3 linked regions of the Homo sapiens genome follow. The protein of the gene in region 2 purifies or fractionates together with the protein of the main gene of each other region. This does not show direct contact. Each region holds a gene or a part of one and is shown on either strand. Other genes may lie near its edges.

Evidence for each region. The genes of interacting proteins can lie anywhere in the genome.
Region 1: the proteins of ZSCAN1 (region 2) and ZNF496 purify together in Homo sapiens (affinity purification with mass spectrometry; 3 studies listed by BioGRID and IntAct, with this or other methods). This does not show direct contact.
Region 3: the proteins of ZSCAN1 (region 2) and ZNF24 purify together in Homo sapiens (affinity purification with mass spectrometry; 3 studies listed by BioGRID and IntAct, with this or other methods). This does not show direct contact.

What each region holds. Positions count from the first base shown.
Region 1 is NC_000001.11:247,328,853-247,336,580, forward strand, and holds the start of ZNF496 (zinc finger protein 496), read right to left. Parts: upstream 3,016-7,728; 5' UTR 2,938-3,015; intron 2,796-2,937; 5' UTR 2,580-2,795; intron 1,230-2,579; 5' UTR 1,114-1,229; intron 764-1,113; 5' UTR 727-763; coding exon 337-726; intron 15-336; coding exon 1-14. UniProt on the Homo sapiens protein: DNA-binding transcription factor that can both act as an activator and a repressor.
Region 2 is NC_000019.10:58,051,021-58,055,157, reverse strand, and holds the end of ZSCAN1 (zinc finger and SCAN domain-containing protein 1), read right to left. Parts: intron 2,669-4,137; coding exon 2,530-2,668; intron 1,730-2,529; coding exon 1,107-1,729; 3' UTR 527-1,106; downstream 1-526. UniProt on the Homo sapiens protein: May be involved in transcriptional regulation.
Region 3 is NC_000018.10:35,341,406-35,348,733, reverse strand, and holds the start of ZNF24 (zinc finger protein 24), read left to right. Parts: upstream 1-4,313; 5' UTR 4,314-4,374; exon of another isoform or gene 4,375-4,680; intron 4,681-7,328. UniProt on the Homo sapiens protein: Transcription factor required for myelination of differentiated oligodendrocytes. Required for the conversion of oligodendrocytes from the premyelinating to the myelinating state.

The sequences.
Region 1 (7,728 bases), on a different chromosome or scaffold from region 2:
TCACAGTGCTTGAGCTGCAATCCCAGAGACAGCTTTTCAGGGCTAGGGGAAGAGGTCCCATCTCTCCCTGGGCCTGGTGACCATCCACTCCACAGCTGACCATCAAAGGCTCAACTTAGGCCTTGGACTGGGCTGTAAAGGGGCACGACACTATCATGCCCAAATTAGAGCCTTCAGGGAGTAAAACTGGCTTTCTTAGGAAACTCTAGTCTGGACCTAACCAAAGTAAATGGCTCTCGATGGAACTCCTCATTCCCCAGCCAGCACATGCATGGCCCAGCCAAAGTGTCTAAGTACCAGATCTCTACCCGTCCCAGCCCCACCTCTTCTACTCACCCACTGCCAGGGTCTCCCGGGCTCCCGTTCCAGTGCCTCCACCGCGGCCACAGCCTGCTCTCCGCTCTCAGGCTCCTGCGCCCGCACCCAGCTCTGGATCTCCCGGGGCAGGATGGCCAGGAACTGCTCCAGCACCAGCAGCTCCAGAATCTGCTCCTTGGTGTGCCTCTCAGGCCGCAGCCAGCCCCCGCACAGGTCCCAGAGGCGCTGCAGGGCCTCCCGGGGGCCCGCCGCCTCCTGGTAGCGGAAACGGCGGAAGAGACGCCGAGAGGACTCGGGGCTGGGAAGCTCCCCCTGGGGGCTAGGGTTCTCTCCAGGTGGGCTCCTCATTTTCCTGGGCTCCTCACTTTCCTTCGGAGCCAAGACTCGGGGGCACAGGGCTGTGGGCATGATGGGATTTGATGGGGGTCAGCAGCAGAAGACGACCCTATTTCCAAACAGAAATCACTGGCTTCAGTGTTCTGGTCTCCTGTGGTCATTTCTGGGGGACAGTGACAAGGAAACTGTCAATGCCCTCAGAGACCAGCCCTTTGGAGAAGCCCTGGGAAAGGTAGGGAGTGTTGGTGTGGCTGGTCTTTACACACAGGATGAAACAGACAGAAAGATGCCCTCCCCCCATCAGTACCATTACGTGTGGATTCCCGTTAAGTGGGTGACTGGATGAACAAGACAGGAAATCTGGGAGAAAGTGGTGGCATTTCAACGTGACACTGCTGTTTTGAGCATCCCAGGAAACCAACAGCGCCACATGCAGATGTAATCAAGACGCTCTGGTACCTTGGGTGGCTGGGTCCTCCTGGAGAGATCCGAGATGGGCAGGCCAAGCAGGCCACTATCTTGAAGCTCCGGAGCCGAAGTCACTGTTCTTGTTATTAAGACCTTTACAAATGGAGCTGGAATGACAAAGACATGCATCGGATGAGCCTTCAAGCACATCCAGGAATGGAAAATCCACCCTTCTGGTGGCAGAGGGCTGATGGTGCTGCGTGCTGGATGGACAACCCAGCCAGAATCAGCTTTGCCCAGCAGAGTCTGCAATGGGAGGCAAGGGAAAACATCACATGAGACAGCTACATGCAGTCTACCAGGGACAAATAACACTGCATCTAGAAGTATCAGTGGTTTCCTATGAGCCTTCTGCCAATTCTGCCCTGACCTTCAACCTCGCCTCCACCCTATTCTCTATCCTTGCCCTCTTCAAACCACATTGAAGGCAACTGCACACTCGCCAAAGCCCTTCCTCGGCCAGGACAGAAAAGTGGGTCCGTCACTGCACAGCTCAGCCCTCAAAGAACCCCTGGACACTGCAGCTGCCACACCCCCAAGGTGGGACTCAGGGGTCCCTACACCTCCCCGCTGGTGTGCAGACAACTAGCCGACACTTTTGCCACAACTAGGGTGGCAAGAGACCAGCAACCAGTATACCTGGTGTTTATGATTCCCACTTTAGAACGCTGGGCCCGTGAAAGGGCACATGGGGACACTCACAGTCCCCTTCTCTGCCATCAGGCCTCTGTGATCCTTAGGACCGGCAGTGCCTGCCACTCCCCCATCTGCACGAGGTTGTCCAGCGTGGCCGCGTCTTAACCTCCAACAGCTCACAAGGTGGGAAGGGGGACTCGGGCCTCACTCCCATTTCACAGAAAGACAAGTGATGCCAGAAAAGCTACGGAACAACTGAGTGGTTCCAGAAACACCCACTGCTCTGAATCTCTTTGCTTTCCAAAGTAACAACATACACAGAAACCCATATGGGGGCCGTGGCGGCGTCGGGCTGGACGCATTACAGCGCTCCCCACCACCGGATCGCTTCCAGGGCGGCTCCGGCATCTGGAGCCCGGGGTGGGCCCCGCCCGCCCTGCTCGGCGGCCCCCTGCGGCGCCCATCACACACCTGCAGCGCCCAGGACTACTCAGGCCCGCCCCCCCGAGCACCGGCGCCCACCCGGGCTGCCACTCGGATCGTCTCCAACCAGACGGCCGCGTCCGTCTTTGTCACGGCGGCACCTGGCGCGTCGGAGGCTCGGAGGAGATGCCTGATGAATGAACTAACGTGAGTGAGGCGGAGGAGGGCCCCGCAGGGGCGGAGCGAGCTCCCAGCCTTTCGCGGAGGAGGGACCGAGCTGGATCGGCAGAAAGGGAAGGAGAAGGTCGCTGTGGGCCAGGGAAGGGGGAGCCCGCCCTCCGCGCCCTCGGTCTCCCTCACACGCGCGTCTCCCGTCTCGCCGGCTCCGGGCTCCTCACCTCACAGCCTGGAGCTCCCTCCCGGCGTCCGGCCGAAAACCCTCCTGTGGCGGCGGAAGTCCAGGGCAGCCGTCCTCATCCTCCCAGCCCGCCCGGCCGGGCGTACTCGCTGAGGCGGGGTCTCCGCAGGCGCCCGGCTCCTTTCCCGGCCCGTCCAGACCGCGTCTCCCGATCATCCGGAAAGCCACGGCTCGGCTCGGGGGCAAATGGAGGCGCCTGAAAAACAATGGTGTTGCTTTCTCCCCCGCCCGCACCTTCCTGAGCGCTGGGCTCTGGGCTGGGAGGCGGCGCCGCGGAGGCCGGGCGCGGGCCGAGGAGGGCGGGGCGGGGCCGGCCGCGGGAGCCGGGGTGCACTCACCGCCGCGGCGCGTCCCTGTTGGCGGGCGGCGCAGGCCTGGCCGCCGCGGGAGCCCGCCGGACGCCGAGGAAAGGAAAGGCCGGAGCCCTCCGGCTCCCTCCCCTGGGACACTTCCTGCTCCGCTCTAGGACTGGGGAGGTCTCCGCATCTCAGTGGTTCGCTCCCCCGCCCCCCGGCCGAGGTGTGCGCTGGGGGTGACATCCGACACCCCCGGCCCGCCCCGCTCCGCGCGCGCCTGGGCCTGGCCGCCGGGCCGGGGGCTTTGTGGGTCAGCCACGTCGCCGCGCCCGGGCTTCCCCGCGGGCCCGCCGGTCCGGAAGGTCGGCCCGGGGCTCTTTTCTCCGCTGTTCTCCTTCTCTGGCGCCCCCAGGACACGCGGCCAGTGGACGCCCGGAACGGCCGACCGGGAGTCGCGGCTGGGGATGGAAGCTGGAATTGGGGGTGCGGGATGGAGCGGAGAGAGGAGGCCCCGCGCGCCGTCGGCCGCCTCATTTCAGACTCCCCTGCGACCCCCCCCCCGCCGCCAGCCGAAGCCCGGGCCGCCCAGCCCCTCCTGCCGCTGCGGGACGCCGAAGGTAGCGCTCACATCCGCGCCTTCCGGGCCTGGCGCCCACGTGCGGAGTCCCCGGGTTAGGAAAGGCCGCGCATCCGGAGGCCACGCAGAGCCTCGGGGCTTGCGCAGAGGGGCTGCGGTGAGTCCTGACCCTGAGTGGGGGTCACGGGGCTCGTTGCTCGCTGAAGTGAACACGGTTGCAGCTGTGCACAGTGGCGGAGGGAGAGGATGAGGGACTCTGACCCAAGGTTATGTGGCAGTGAGGGGCAAGCAGAAATGGGGGCCTCCGGACCCCACCCCGAGACAGGGCTGCTGGCCGCTGCACTATGCTGAATATAGCCCAAATTCTTACATGGGTCGTCCCCGGGGAATGCTCATTTTTCAGGCTCCAGAGCTTGAGAGAAAGTGCGAACCCGGTCCCTGAGCAGGTCTGATTCCCATGGCCCCTTCGCCATCTGCTCTGCACCGAAATTGGATTCTCCTACGCAGAGGAGAAGGTGGAGAAGATTCTCCGTCTTCCGGAGGGTAGCTACTGCCGGTAGCTCCGATTTCCTTCGGATCCCCTTTCAAGGGCAAGCAGAAGGAAATCAGTTTCTCCAAAGAAAGTGGCCCGGCTGAGTAAGTGGGAACAAGGTGGTTGGACTGAGGCACGGGATCCTTTAGCTCCGTTGCTCTTCTAATCCCGTGGCCCTGGGCACCGCCACTTCCTCCTCTGAACTGCTGGAATAATCACTTCTGACTAGCAGAGTTACTGGGAGCCGCTGTTTGTCAGTGTTCACATTCTGACTTTAGCAGGAGATGGAGCGAGCGAAGGAGTGAAGCCCTTGTTTGTGAACAGTGATTGTTTCCCGGATGACAGCCAGATGCCGGGCAGGGCCACGCAGATCTTAGCTGGAGCCTACAGGTACAAGTGAGAGCCACCCCCTTTGACGTAACTGGACTGGCATTTACAGAACTCATGTACAGCCCACTCTCAGGAACACCAGCCAGGAACCGTGACATGGAGGAGAGGAATTGGGAGGAACCGAGGGGTCATCAAAGGCTGGTAGGGCTTAGGTGCTCTAGCAAACATCCTAGTCTGTGGGGTTCCAGAGCTCTGGTGCTACAGCTCCCAACCCTTTGATTGGCCCAGGAACTGGCTGTTGAGTGGGCATCCGTGTTCATAGCTCTGCCCCTTGCAACCCTAAAGCAGATAAAATGCAGGAGGCAGAAATTGCTGGCAGACAGCATCCAATTAATCCCCACTACCCAATTCAGTTTCTTCCCCTGACCTGACACGTCCCTGCCCAGCTGTGCCTCCCACTGTTCACCTTTTGAGGCACAAAACGGGCTGTTTATGCTGCTGCTGCATTTAGCTCAAAACAGGGCTTCAGAGTCAAGGTTCTGGACTCAGGCACCCGGATTAAATCCTGCCCTATGAATTCCTAGCCAGGTGACCTCAGGCCTACATAACCTTTCTGTACCTCAACTTCCTCATCCAGAAAACAGGGATGATGCTGTCTACCTCATTGGATGGTTGTGCAGGATCAAAGATTCAGTCATTCAGCAAACCTATACCGAGTACCTACTGTACACTCATGAGTGCTAGGCAGCCAGCCTTCCAGGTGCTCAGGTACATCTGTGAACACAACTGGCTATTGGAGGAAGCAAAATCAGTAACATGACCTGCTCTCTTTGATCTGTGCTACAGAAAAAAAGGAAAGTGGAGAGGCATCAGGAAGTCAGGAGTGCTGGGGAGGGGCTGGTAACAGTCATGGTATTAAAGAGGAGGGCAGGCAGGCCTTACTGTGAAGGTGGTATTTGAGATGAAGTAGTTGGTCAGAGTCCCTGTTTGACACATGGAGACCACCTTGACAGCAAAGGCCCTAAGGGGGAGCGGTGCGAAGCAAGGTGGGCTGGTGAGTGAGAGGAGAGGGATGGCATAGAGCTGGGTGGGGGCACAGGAGCCCGTGGGGAAGGTGTTCGCCTCTGAATGAAGTGGGGTTGTATCAGATACCACGGGTGAAGCATCGGGAAGAGGATCCTGCCTGTAAACCCTGCTCAAGGACTGCACCATCATCATGCCCAGTGTGTGCGTGTATTAGGTTTGTATGAATATAATGTTGCCAATTGTATCTGTTTTTATGAAATGTTTGCTATGTGCCAATGATTATTCGATCCATGGGGAGACCATAGAAGAATGATCCAAGGAGTTGGGAGGGGAATCAAATAATAAATCAGCGATTCTGCAATATAACGCCATTGGTGATCGGTGTCATGAAAGAAATACAACATGGTGGGGAAGAGTGTGCTGGGGATGTTCAGGTAGGGCCTCTGTCAGGAGGTGACATTTGAGTGGAGAGCAGGTGGGGGGCTCCTGAGCAGAGGTGTGTGGGAAGAGTATTCCAGCAGAGGAAACAGCGTGTGCTTGCTCAGCTGGGCAGAGGAATAGTGAGAGAATGGTGAGGCTGGAACCAGGTCACCAGATGTTATAGTCATTAGAGGGTTTCAAGTAGGAGTGTGGCCTAACGGAATCTTGATTTTATCAAGATCACTGTGCAGAACAGATGAAGCAGAGTCTCTGTTAGGAATCGTTGTAGAGATCCCGGCAGGAGATGCTCGGTTCCTGGAGTTGACTGGTGGAGGCACAGCTGGTGAACAGTAGGCCCAATCCAGGCTCTGTGTTGAAGGCATGCTGCCTGTGTTAGAGGAGTGAGGAACGGCTGTGACTGGGGCTGAAACTGGGTGACTGAACAGGCCTTCTAGAGATGGCAGATGCAAGGAAGCAGGTTTCCAGGAAGGGGTTGGGTTTGGGGTTGAATTGGTGGATTTGGGACTTGCTGGTTTTCAGATGCCCAGGAGACAAGTGGGGATGACCCTCTGGGATAGAAAGCTGTGGCTGGAGGTGGAAATCTGGAGTCACCGTATGTAGCAGGAGCTGGGGCTTGAGAGGGTTGAGTGTGTTTTGAGAAGCAGCCCCAGGGAGGGCAGACCCTGCGAAATGCCAGCCCTGGACCGTGGGAGCCCAAGGGGTTAGTGGAGGAGAAGGGAGAGAAGGGGAAGTAGGAGGAGGAAAGTGAGGGAGGACGAGGGCAAGAGAAGGGGGTAGGGAGAGCTGCTGCCGCCTTGAGATAAAAGGAAAATTGCAGGTGTGGAGCCCTGGAATCCAAGTGAGCACCTGTGTTTCAAGGAGAGAAAGAGGTCAGGGGGATAAATCCTGCGCCAAGATCAAATCCGATGAGGAAAGAACACTGCCCATTGAATCTGGTAGAGAGGCCCCTGAGCAAAGCAGACAGTGGAGCTCCTGGGCTAGGGCACTTTCTGGAAGAGAAGGGAGATGAGAGTGGACACAGCCCTGTGGAGAAAAACGGTCTCATCTTAAAGATGGGAGAAATTGCAGTGCATCGCCTGGAGGAGGGAGGGCTGGCACCCAGGGCCCACGGGGAGCCGGAGGGCAGGGAAGGCTGCCTCTGGACCTGAGGCATGTCCACAGCATCTGGGCAGGGAGAGCCTGGGGCAGGCTTCTTCCAACTTTGCCAACACTCCAGTAAAATAAGGAGCAAGTGTGACGTTTTATTTTATGAGGCAACTTGGCTAGCTGTGGTACTCAGTTTTTGTTCAAACACCAGTCTGGTGTTTCTGTGAGGCTGTTTTTTAGATATGATTAATAGTTAAATCTGTAGACTTTGAATGCAGCGGGTTACCCTCCATAGCGTGGGCGGGCTTCATCCAATCTGTCGAAGGCCGTAAGAGCAAAGACTGCAGTCTCCTGAGGAAGGAACTCCCCCTGCGGCGCGCCTTCCGACTTGCTGCAGCTTCGGCTTTCTGGATCTGCAGCCTGCCCTGCAGATTTTAGACTTGCAAGCCAATCAGTTCCTTAAAAGAAAACAGTCTCCCTCATCTCTCTCTATTGATCTCTAGCTCTCTATCCCCACCCCCTTCCCTCCCCCCACTCCACATGCTATTTGTTCCGTTTCTCTGGAGAACCCTGACTGCTACACAGGGCCCTTAAGTGACAGGGAGAAAGAGAGGGTGAAATGTGAGAGCAGGAGGAAGAGGGCGTGAGACGGCCATCTTGCAGAGTGGAAAGGTGAATGGACGATAACAAAGGAAAGGGTGAATTATATATAACCTGGAAAGTGAAGTGTGCACAAGGAAATGTGATGTGTAACCTAAAGCCCCAGTGCTTTGCAGGTGGGCAGCCGTTCCACTGTGACATCGCCCCCCAGGTGGGCAGCCGTTCCACTGTGACATCACCC
Region 2 (4,137 bases):
TGCGGATTCACAGTCAGCCCAACACTGTGTTTCCAAGTGAAGTCGGGAGGAGAAAAAGAAAAAGGCAAAAACTTTTAAGGCTTTTGCTTGAAAGGGGACGAGTGTCCGACAACAATGAGTTGGGGACGGGTGAGAAGCCGAGTCCGAGGCTGGCTCCCCGCTGTGACGTCACCGCCTGCCCACACTCTGCTCCAGCCTAGCAGGAGAGGCGGGCCCACTCTTTGGAGACCATCTGATCCTTCCTGGCAGACCAGAAAGCCAGATTTTTATGGTTTAAACAAATGTTGGCATCTATCTAAAAAAAAAATCCTTCTGTAAGTCAAACAAAATACAGGCAGGTCAGTTTTGGTCAGGCCTAAAGACTGCGCCTGAAATCCTCAGAGACAGGAAGCAGATTCTGGTTGTCAGGGCGGGCAGGAATGGCGAAGGCGTGCTGAGGACTGTGGGCTCTCTTTCTGGGCAAGACGAAAACATCTTTGGAGCTAGAGAGTGCTGGTAGTTGCACAGTGTTGTGAATGTGCTTAATGCCACTGAACTGTTCATTTTTAATGACTGAAATGGTAAATTTTATGTTGCATGTACTTTACCCAAAAAAGGAAAAAAACAAAACCCTGTTTATCTGTTAGGTTCCAAGGGGGCTAAGCTGGCAGGAGGGCAGCCGGGGTCAGCTGTACCCTTCTCTGGAGTTGGAGCTGCCCAGGCCGGCTCCCACCCTCATGGCCTCAGGGATATCCACAGTGAAATGAAAACCCAGCGGCAGAAGCTGCCGCTGAGTCAGGTGCTAACAGGGAGACCTGGACAAGGCTTCTGAAAGATGGGACGCGAATGAAACTCCTCTTCAAGCCACTTGCAAAACTATAGTGCGCAGGACTGACCAGGCTGTGCTGTGGAACTGCTGCTTCTCAGCTGAGACCCTGGGAAGCCCCATCCCGTGCTTGGCTTCGGAGCAGGTGTCCAGGGTCTTCCGAGAAACAGCTTGTGTCCTTCAAGAGGAGTCCCAAGGTGGCCAGGGGTTGGTGGGGCTGGGGGATGTCCCCCATCTTCTGGGGCCCATCAGCTCCCCCCAGGGACTCAGGGCCGGGTGGCCGAGGCCCGAGGCTGGCCATTCACATGTGGCCGTGGGCCGTGTGGAGCTTCTGGTGGTCAATGAGGTGGACCATCCAGGGGAAGGCCTTCCCGCAGACGCTACACTGGAAGGGTCTTTTGGGGCTGCGAGGGGCCACTGGGCCCTGGGCTCCATCCCTGGGTGGGACGGACTCCCGGGGGCCCTTGCTCCGGGGGGCTTTCTTCCTCGGTGGCTCCAGCAGGTGGATCTTGCCATGCTCAGTGAGGACGGAGTTGTGCAGGAAGACCTTGCCACACTCGGGGCACGGAAAGGGCCCTTCCTCGCGATGGGTCTTCTGGTGCTCGATGAAGTGGGTGACCCAGGTGAAGACCATCCCACAGTCGGCACACTGGAAGGGCCGCCCACCTCGGGGCCCACGCGGCACTACCGAGATGCCTGCAACAGCCTCTTGGGTACCACCTTTGGTGTGCTTGAGGGATGGCTGGTGGCGGCCGCTCTGGTCAGTGTTCCTGTTTCTCCTTCGGGGACTGATTCTCTGAGCACTTGGACCCTTGGGGCTCGAGATCACAGTCCCTTCTGCCCGCAGGTCTGAGGAGGGCCCTGCGAGAAGGTCCTCAGGCTCGTCCCAGATACTCGGCTTCAGAGGCAAGCGGGCCCGGGACCCTGTGGAGGGCGAGGGAGATGGGTCACCTGTAGTGAGTGGATGGCCTTGGCATCTCCCTGTGCTCCCCAGGGGCACGGAGGACCCCAGTGACTGAGCCAAGTCCAGGCCCTTCCTCTGCTCAATACGGCCCCTGTGTCCTCCGTTCTGTCCTTTAAGATACAAGGGCACATGTGGCCGGTGCAGTGGCTCATGCCTGTAATCCCAGCACTTTGGGAGGCCGAGGAAGGTGGATCATGAGGTGAGGAGTTAGACACCAGCCTGACCAACATGGTGAAACCCCGTCTCTACTAAAATACAAAAATTAGCTGGGCGTGGTGGTGTGCGCCTGTAATCCCAGCTACTCAGGAGGGTGAGGCAGGAGAATCGCTTGAACCCAGGAGGCGGAGGTTGCAATGAGCCAAGATCACACCACTGCACTCCAGCCTGGGCAACAGAGCAAGACTCTGTCTCGAAAAAAAAAAAAAAAGGCACATGTTTTGGGAGCAGATCCCACAGCACTGGCCCTTGTTCCTACCTGGCTGGCCCTCTGGGTAACCCCGTGCTCCAACACTCTCAGACTGTCTGCCTTGGCTGCCGTTCAGGTGCGGAGGCTGAGGCCCTTCTCGTAGGGTGAACGATGTACATGGTGGTTCTAGGGGCCCCAGATCTCAGTCCTCACAGGAGGTGTGCATGCTTTCTGGGGGAAGTGTGGAGTTCACCACCGAAGCACCCAACTCAACCCATTAACAAAGTCTGTGGCTTTGGGTTGAAGTCCCAAACTCCATTTCCAACCCTTAATCCACACAGGAGCCAGACTCACCCAGCAAGCCAGGGGCGCGGGGCGCTTCGGCCTCCGCCCTGGTGTGCAGACTCTGCTGGAGCTGGGTAGTCTCCAGCCACTCACTTTCCTCGGGGAGTGCTGGGGCTGCTGCCACTGCATCCAGAATCAGCTCAGACGCCTAGAATGGCAAGCACAGGACTGTTCGGCAGCTGCCCCTCAGGAGCCATCCTCCCCACCACCACCGAACAACCAAGGAACGGGCGTCATCCCCAAAGGCTCTGTCCCAGGGCAGTGCGCGGTGTCGCGCCTGTTGTTCCCGTGCTTTGGGATGCTGATGCTGGAGGATTGCTTGAGGCCAGGAGTTTGGGACCAGCCTGGGCAACACAGCAAGACTCTGCTTATACAAAAAATAAATAACCACTCCTAAAGAGCTCTTAACAGGACCTGAGACAGAATTCGAGGGGCCCCTGTACAAAATGGAAATGCAAATCCCCTTGTTCAAAGATCGTTGATCATTTCAGGACAGTGACAACAGAGCATTAGATGGAGCCAGGGGACCTGTGCCACAGCTCGGGTCACTGTTACAAGCTGGGGCTCCTAACTCCCGTCCCCCAAGGCTGCACTGTCCTTGCCCACAAGCCCAGAGGAAGTGGGCGACTTCACAGACTTCACATCCCACCTGCGACCTATGACCTCTGATGCACCTAACCGTGTCCCGCCCAAAGCGGGGATCACCACTTCCTGGGAGGAGACTGAGCTGTGGTTGAAGAGCAAGAATTCGAAACAGAGGGGCTTGGCTTGGTGTCCAGGCTCCAGCCCTGCTTGTTGTGTGGCCCTGGATGAGGAGCTTTAGCTCTCTGGGTTTCCAGTGAGGATGTGGGTGCTACGTGCCCAGAGCCTGGTACCATCAAGGGCTCGGCAAACTGCAACGGAGTCGTGTCAAAGGAAAACACAGTGACACTTATCAATGCAAATCAGGTTGTTGGAGGAGGTATGTTGAGTCAAACAAAGCATCAGAAAAGACCAGGAGTCAAGCACGCACTGACAAGGTCTGTCTTGAGTGGGTCTTCGCTTTCTGCTGCCCCAACCCTACCTGGATGCACAGGGGCCTAAGGAAGCTGTCCAAGATTCCCAATAGCTGGGCAAAACTGGAGTAGAGGGATTGCTGGGCTAGAGACGGAGGAGGGAGGGAGGGAGGGAGGGAGCTGATGGCAGGAAGGGAGTTAAGGCACAAGATTCTTCCTGCTCTCACGTTGGGAGTATGTGGATGGTGTGTTTGGCTGGGTTATTGATTTTTATTTCTTATCAAATGCTAGTTTTGATTGTAAAACATGTTGAATTCTGAAATCGTAACCAGAGGAGCCACCATCTATAGGAGTAAAGGCGGGACTCCCTTTTACGCCTCTTCCTGGTACCTGGCTACTGGGGGCCATTGTGGACAGTCAGGCTCTTCCCTACTTCACCCACCTTGGCGTCTGTGACTAATCAAGGGCAGCAGAGGGGCTGCGTGGAGAGAAGAGTGGGTGGCATGTATGTGTGGAGAGAGGGGCATGCTTAGTTCCCCTGACTCTCAGGGGGCATCAGAGGAGCTATCGACACACTTGGGTCAGGCACAGAAACCAAGACATTCCCGGGGCCCTATCTGTA
Region 3 (7,328 bases), on a different chromosome or scaffold from region 2:
TCATGATTTTGGTGGTCGTTTCACAAATCTAAAACTCAGAAATATCTGCCCCCCCAAAAGTGCCATATTTTGCTGTCTGTTAATTTTATTAAGAGAAGAACTCCATAAATAGAGAACAAATAATGAAACAAATAAACAAAGCCAAAAGTTGATTCTTTGAAAAATTAATAAAATTGATAAGCCTCAAGCAAAACTTGAAGTCTTGATTAAGAAAAAAGAAACCAGAAATTAGCAATGTCAGGAATGAAAGAGGGGACATCCCTACAAACATTAAAAAGATATTAAGGAACTCACATTAATGATATTAAGGAAATAATTGTGAACAACTTTATGCCAATAAATCTGACAACTTAAATGAATTAGACAGATTTCTTCAAAGATACAAACCATTTCCCCTTATATCTCATGGACCAGAAATGAATCACATACTCATTCCTCGGTGCCAGCAAGGCAAAGCGAGGGTCTGGCACAGGGAAGCAGAATGGTCATGGATAGCTTAGCTCAATTACACTTTATTGCTTACAGCTGGGCACACTGTTCCCCCTCTCCATCCAAAAAAATCAGGAGTGTATTAGAAGCAAGGGAAAGCACTTTGTGTGGGAAGCTAACGATGCTTGCCTATTAGGTTTTCAGTCACTTGCAATCAAAAGACTCCTCATACTGTATACTTACTAGCTAAAATGGAATCTTTAAGCAATGTACTTAAAGTGCCCAGAGGGAGATACTTTTGAGCTGAAGGGGACTGAGAGCTCCAAAGCCTGGAAAAAAAATCAGTCTTGGATGGAATCTGATAACACCAAATCTGAAGGTCTATGCTTTCCTTCCAGTGTGAACACTTTTTTTTTTTTTTTGATCAGGATCTCACTCTGTCCACAAGGCTTAAGTACAGTGATGCGATCAGAGCTCACTGCATCCTCAACCCCTCAGGTTCAAGAAATCCTCCCACCTCAGTCTCCTGAGTACCTGGGACCAAAGGTGCAGGCCACTATGCCCAGCCTGAAAACTTTTCTGGCTGGCTTCCTCCATTTCAGGGTGCCTCCCTTCCCTCTTAGCACACTATCTCATTTAGGAGCCCTTACAGGCCTTCTGCTTTTCTCTACTGTAGCACTTCTACACTGCCTTGTGAATACTTGTTTTTTTCTGTTGTTGTTGTTTATTTCCTTAACAAGATGGTAATGTTAAAAGAAGGAATCAAACTGGACATGGTGGCTCACAACTGTACTCCTAGCGTTTTAGAAGGCTGAGGCGGGAGGATCCCTACCAGGAGTTCCAGGCTGCAGCAAGCTGTGATTATGCCACTGCACTCCAGCCTGGGCAACAGAGTGAGATCTCATCTCTTTTAAAGGGAAAAACAAAGACGGAATCATGACTTCATTTTATTCATCTCTATTATCTCTGGTACCCAGGTAGTATCTGTCTGGTCATTTTGTTCGTTTTACCATTAATTAATGAATCAGATGTTTGGTATCAAGGCAAGGTTGAAAGATTTGGCTGGTAAAGAAATGAACCCTTTTTGAATTTAGACATATTATTATTTGCACAGACATTGAAAGCAAAAGCAAGTGCCAGCTCTCCATGAGCTTTTGTCTCAGATACCAAAATGATGACACCAAAACAGAAGGGGCTGGATGACTACAGCATACACTGTGGACACCTTGTTGCTGAGGGGTTAATGCCATGCTGCAGCTAAGCCTTGTTATAACCTGCAGCTGTACTCTAAGAGGGTAAGGCAGAATGGCTCGTTGGAACCCAGGAAGCAATAGAAACTGCCTCATGATAGTCTCTTTGGAAGACAGAGAGCTGAGTGGGAAATGGCCTTGCACTAGCTGCTTACAAGCCTCTCATGCACTCATCTTCTGGGAAGATCCCAAGGTGTTCTGCCAAGACTCAGATCAGCTGTGGTTCAGGCATTGCCTATGTGGCCTATGTGGATATGTGCAAGGTTGTCAGGCCCGGGTATGAAGCTGCTCCCTCCATTCAGGTTGTCCAGAGGAACATGTTTTATCTTGACTAGATCTTTAAGATGGCAACAAGGGCCACCATTCAGGAAAAAATCCCAGAGGACCTCAGAAGGATGGTGTTTCAAAGCGGGTGTTAGTAGCCCCTGCCCTCAAAGGAGTAACTTAGTGAGGAAAACCTTACTGTGGTTTCCATTTAGTAGTTTACAAATAATTAATAATAATAGAATGGAGGCCAGGCACGGTGGCTCATGCCTGCAATCCTAGCAATTTAGGAGGCCAAGGCAGGAGGGTCACTTGTGCCCAGGAGTTGGAGAGCAGCCTGGGAAACATAGGAAGAACTCATCTCTGAAAAACAAACAAACAAACAAACAAATTAGCTGGGCATGGTGGAGCACACCTGTTGTTTAAGGACTTATCAAAAGTGTAAGTCCAGCCTTCCATAAGCATTTCAAGATAAATTATTACAGCATAAAATGGAGGCCTTTAAATAGGAGAATGAAGTGGTTTGATTTGTAATTTTAAATGATTGCATCAACAGCTGTTTTATGGTATAAAATGCCCAGTTAGGAGGCTGAGGCGGGAGGATCACTGAGTCTGGGAGGTTGAAGCTGCAGTGAGCCAAGACTGCACCATTGCCCTACAGCCTGGGTGACAGAGCAAGACCCTGTCTCAAAAACAAAACAAACAATATAATCACAGGAAAAGGGTTTTGTAAAATTTTGCAACATTTTTAACTTCCTCAAGGTTAGGTTTCAGATTTATTATTTTTGTTTTCCAACATTAATTAGATGTAAAAACTCTTAAAACAAAAATGCCTTCAGCTAGCCTTTACAAATCAGATAAGAGGGAAAGGTTGGGAAGAGCAGCCAAGTTGCTTAGGGGCCGTATCCAAGTAGCAGAGTGAAAAGGCTGTACTTCTGAAGCTTCCTGCAATGGAGAGAAGTGTTAGCAGGGGTTGTGAGAAGAGCTCTGGTCGGAATGAAAAGCAGTGGTATACCATCAGCTGCTCGCTCACTTGCTCTCTCATGCACGAATCCAGCGGAGCCTGACGGCACTTTTCAGAGGGCATTTTCTCCAATGAGGCAAAAAGTCAAAGCCTGAGGATCTTGAAATGCTTATGTTAGGCTGGATCTACACTTTTGACCAGTCCTTAAACAACAGGGCTCCTTTGTGTGGTGTCTGATGCCAATCATGTGACCTAGCTAAAGGCAGCAATGTAACCATCCCACAATTCATTTATTTATTCAACAAATATTTATTGAGTTCTCTATTTACCAGGCAGTCAGCTTCCAGGATCTAGGATGGGATACTGTGGTGAGCAAGACAGACAAGGTCCCTGCCCTTAAGGGACTTAAAGACAAAACAAAACAAAAAATAAAACAAGTAAATAAATGAGATCACTTCCATTAATAACAGTGCCATGAAGGGTCATGCGCCATGAAAGGCAGGTGGTGAGGCTGAGGATCTTGGGCCACAATGAGCCGAGGAGCTGAGGTGACTGGGGGCGCCAGGGTCTGGGGGTGCGGGCAGGCAACAGACCACAGGGGACTTACAGGCCATTATAAGGAGTTTTTATGTCATAAATTATTATGACATAAATTGGAGGGCTTTAAATAGGGGAGTGAAGTGGTCTGATTTGTAATTTTAAATGATCGCGTCAGCAGTTGTTTTATGGTATAAAATGCCCAGCTTTAAGATGACCATGCATTCTACAAATTCACCGTGACATCACTGCCAAAACTCTTAACCTGTCTTATCTAGTTTTCCTGACAGATAAATAGGTCGGAATAAAGCTCCATGACATAACTAGTGGGAGCCAAAGATTTGAATCACGTCTTGGTTTCAAATCTTGCTACCCACAAATGAGTTGTGAGCTCTTGTCAGGTTATTTACTGTATTTGTGCCTCAACTATCTCAGCTGTGAAATGGGGATAATGAAAGTTCCTACATCATTTATTTGTGGAAAAAAAAATGACATGTAAAGCACGACGAGAGCGCCTGGCACAATGTAGTAAGCTTTCACAAACACTCACTTTCATTCCTTCTTGCAGGGGATTACTGAGAGGATCCACAAGATAATGCACGTGAAAGGGCTTGCGAAATTGTAAGGACTATCTTAATGGTAGAGTCCTCTTTATGTTTTCTTTTAAACGGTCCAGAGGACGCTGGGCTGTTCGAGGAGAGGCGCGAGGCCAAGCGCAGCCTCAATGCGGTCATTGTCGTGGGGCCGCCCCTCCCCCGCCCGGGGCGCTTCTCCATGGCAACGTGGGCTTTACCTCTCCCCGCCTCCTCAGGCCCGCAGACCGGAAGCAGCCCGCGCCGGGGGCTTCTGGGAAAAGGCTTGTGAACGGCGTTTCTGCGTCTGCCGTGGACAGCGAAGCTGCTGCGGTTCCTGAGCCGGAGGTTTGCGCCGGTGTGCGGGGAACGTTATGAGAGGGAGGGGGGACACCGGGCTAGGGTCTGCGGACCTCTTAGCAGGAGCCGGCGGGGAAGCCTGTCCGGGACCTTCCTCAGCTTCCCGGGAGGCGCGGGGAACAGGCCGCGGTCTCCGCGCCTAGCAGTTGTGGGGCGGGGAGGGGTAGGCGGCAGGCCTGCTTGGGTCTTCGGCATTTGCAGAGAGCTCTCTAACCCCCTGTGTCCTCCGAGACCCTCACCTTCCCCCTCCCCCACCGGCCGGTTTTGTTCTATTTCGAGGCCCTGGCGTCTCGCGGAGGGTTCTGGGAGTCGTGATGGGAGGGGGTGGTAGTGGGACGAGACTTGCGCGGGGCTTCTGGGATTTGTAGTCTCACCGGCCGCAGGCGGAAGTGCCGTGGTTCCGACGCTGTTGTCACAGGGTGGCCTTTGGTCATCTGAAATCCGCGGTCCTGAGTGCTGGGAAGAGGGGCTAGAGGACGTCGGGCCGGGGCCGGGGCCGGGGCCGGGATACACAGCAGGTCTATGCAGCAGTAAGGTGGGCGATCCACCTGGGACGAGGTACCCTGCCCAAACATTGTCGGGACCGTGGGCCTTCCCTCCATTTCCCACAAGCGGTATGCTCTACAGCATAAAAGGAAGAGAAAATTATGTAGAAATACTTGCACCGTTGATAAGCAGGGTCTTGGAATAGGAACGAATGAATGTTGGCTAGACCTTATGTATAAGGCCACCACACTCCAGGGTATTTAATTAAACCAGTATGTATTACTTGTCTGATAAGGCCTTTTCTGATTCTAGTCTTCATCTTGCTTGGGTTACAATAAGTTTTTTTAAGTTGTTATTGTTCAGATTTTGGGCCCTGAATAAATAAATAGGCTGAATGGCTCATTGCTAGTATGTGTCGTAAACAACAGCACGGGCATGATCGTGCAAATAATAAAGGTCCAGAAGCAGTATACAGTTTCACTGAAGGTAGAAGCTGGGGAAACTGTGAGTCCTCCAGTGTAAGGACAAGACACTGGACCACTGCAGGAAGTCAAGGTGCTTATGCGAGTGCCTTTTCTTAATAGAAGTTTCTGTGATTAATGCCTATCATTATAAATATAAATGTACGTATGGTGTGGTGGAAGACTGAATATTTACGTATTATGTGCAAGATAATTTTTCAAAATTATGTGATGTTTTTCACATATGATCTTTTCAATATTATGTGATCTGCTACTCAGCAAGTGAACATTTTTTCACATATAAGTCCAAGGAGTTCTTAAACACCTTAAAAATATTTTTTAAATGGTAAAGAAAATTTTTTTAAGCACATAATAATAAAGCGAACCTTCCTTTTGAGTTGACTTGTGTGTGTCAGGAAACACCAATCCTGAATTGGAAATAATGCGTTCCAGGGTCAGGCACATTTAGAAAGCACTGAAGTAGTCTGGTTCTTACTTGGATTCTTTTGATTATTGACATAGGGTTTGTCGTCTTAGTAGGTCATGATTGGCAAACTTTTTCTGTAAGCGGCCATATAGTAAATAAGGTCATGCATAACTCAACGATAGTGCTATGGTCTGAGAAATATGTTAGGCTATTTCATCCTTGTGTGAACGTCATAGAATGTACTTGCACAAACCTAAATGGCGTAGCCTACTACACACTTAGGCTATCTGGTATAGCCTATTGCGCCTAGGCTACAAACCGGTACGGCATGTTGCTGTACTGAATACTGTAGAGAATTGTAACACAATGCTAACTATTTGTGTATCAAAACATAGAAAAGATAAGAGTAAAATATGATATAAAATGTTTGAAAAAAAAAAAAGATATGCCTGTACAGGGCACTTACCATGAATGGACCTCGCTGGATTGGAAGTTGCTCTAAGAAGTCAGTGAGTGAGTGGTGAATTTGGAGGCCTGGGACATTATTGTACATTCCTATAGACCATATAAACACTGAACACTTAGGCTACACTAAATTTATTAAGAAAACATTTTTCTTCAATAATTAACCTTAGCTTACTGGAACTTTTTCACTTACAAACTTTTACATTTTTTTTTAACTTTTTTACTCTTTTGTGATAACACTTCACTTAAAATACAAACACATTGTACAGCTGTACAAATATATTTATATCCTTATTCTGTAAGCTTTTTGCTTTTTTTTTTTTATAGACAGAGTCTCGCTCTGTCGCCAGGCTAGAGTGCAGTGGCGCGATCTTGGCTCACTGCAGCCTCCACCTCGCGGGTTCAAGAGATTCTCCTGCCTCAATCTCCCCAGTAGCTGGGACTACAGGCGCAATCCACCACGCCCAGCTAATTTTTGTATTTTTAGTAGAGACAGGGTTTCACCATGTTGGCCAGGATGGTCTTGATCTCTTGACCTCGTGATCTGCCTGCCTCAGCCTCCCAAAGTGCTGGGATTACAGGCCTGAGCCACCGTGCCCGGCACAGCTTTTTGCTATTTTTAAATTCATTTTTTAGAGACAGGGTCATACTCTGTTGCCCAGGCTGGAATGCAGTGGTGTGATCATAGCTCAGTGGAGCCTTGAACTCCTGGTCTTTAGTGATCCTCCTGCCTCAGCCTCCTATAGTGCTGGGATTACAGGTGTGAACCATTGCACCTGGCCAATTTTTTTTTTCTTTTGGAACTGTTTTTGTTAAAAGCTAAGATAAACACATTAGCTTAGGCTTACACAGGGTCTGGATTATCAGTATCATTGCCTTCTACCTCCATATCTTGTCCCACTGGAAGGTTTTCAGGAGCAGTAACATACATGGAGCTGTCATCTCCATAATAACAGTGCCTTCTGTAATACCTCCTGAAGGACCTGCCTGAGGCCATTTTGCAGTTAACTTTTTTATTTAGTAAGTAGAAGGAGCACACTCTAAAATAATATAGTATAAAAAGTATAGTAAATACATAAACCAGTAACATAGTCGTTTATTATTGTTATCAAG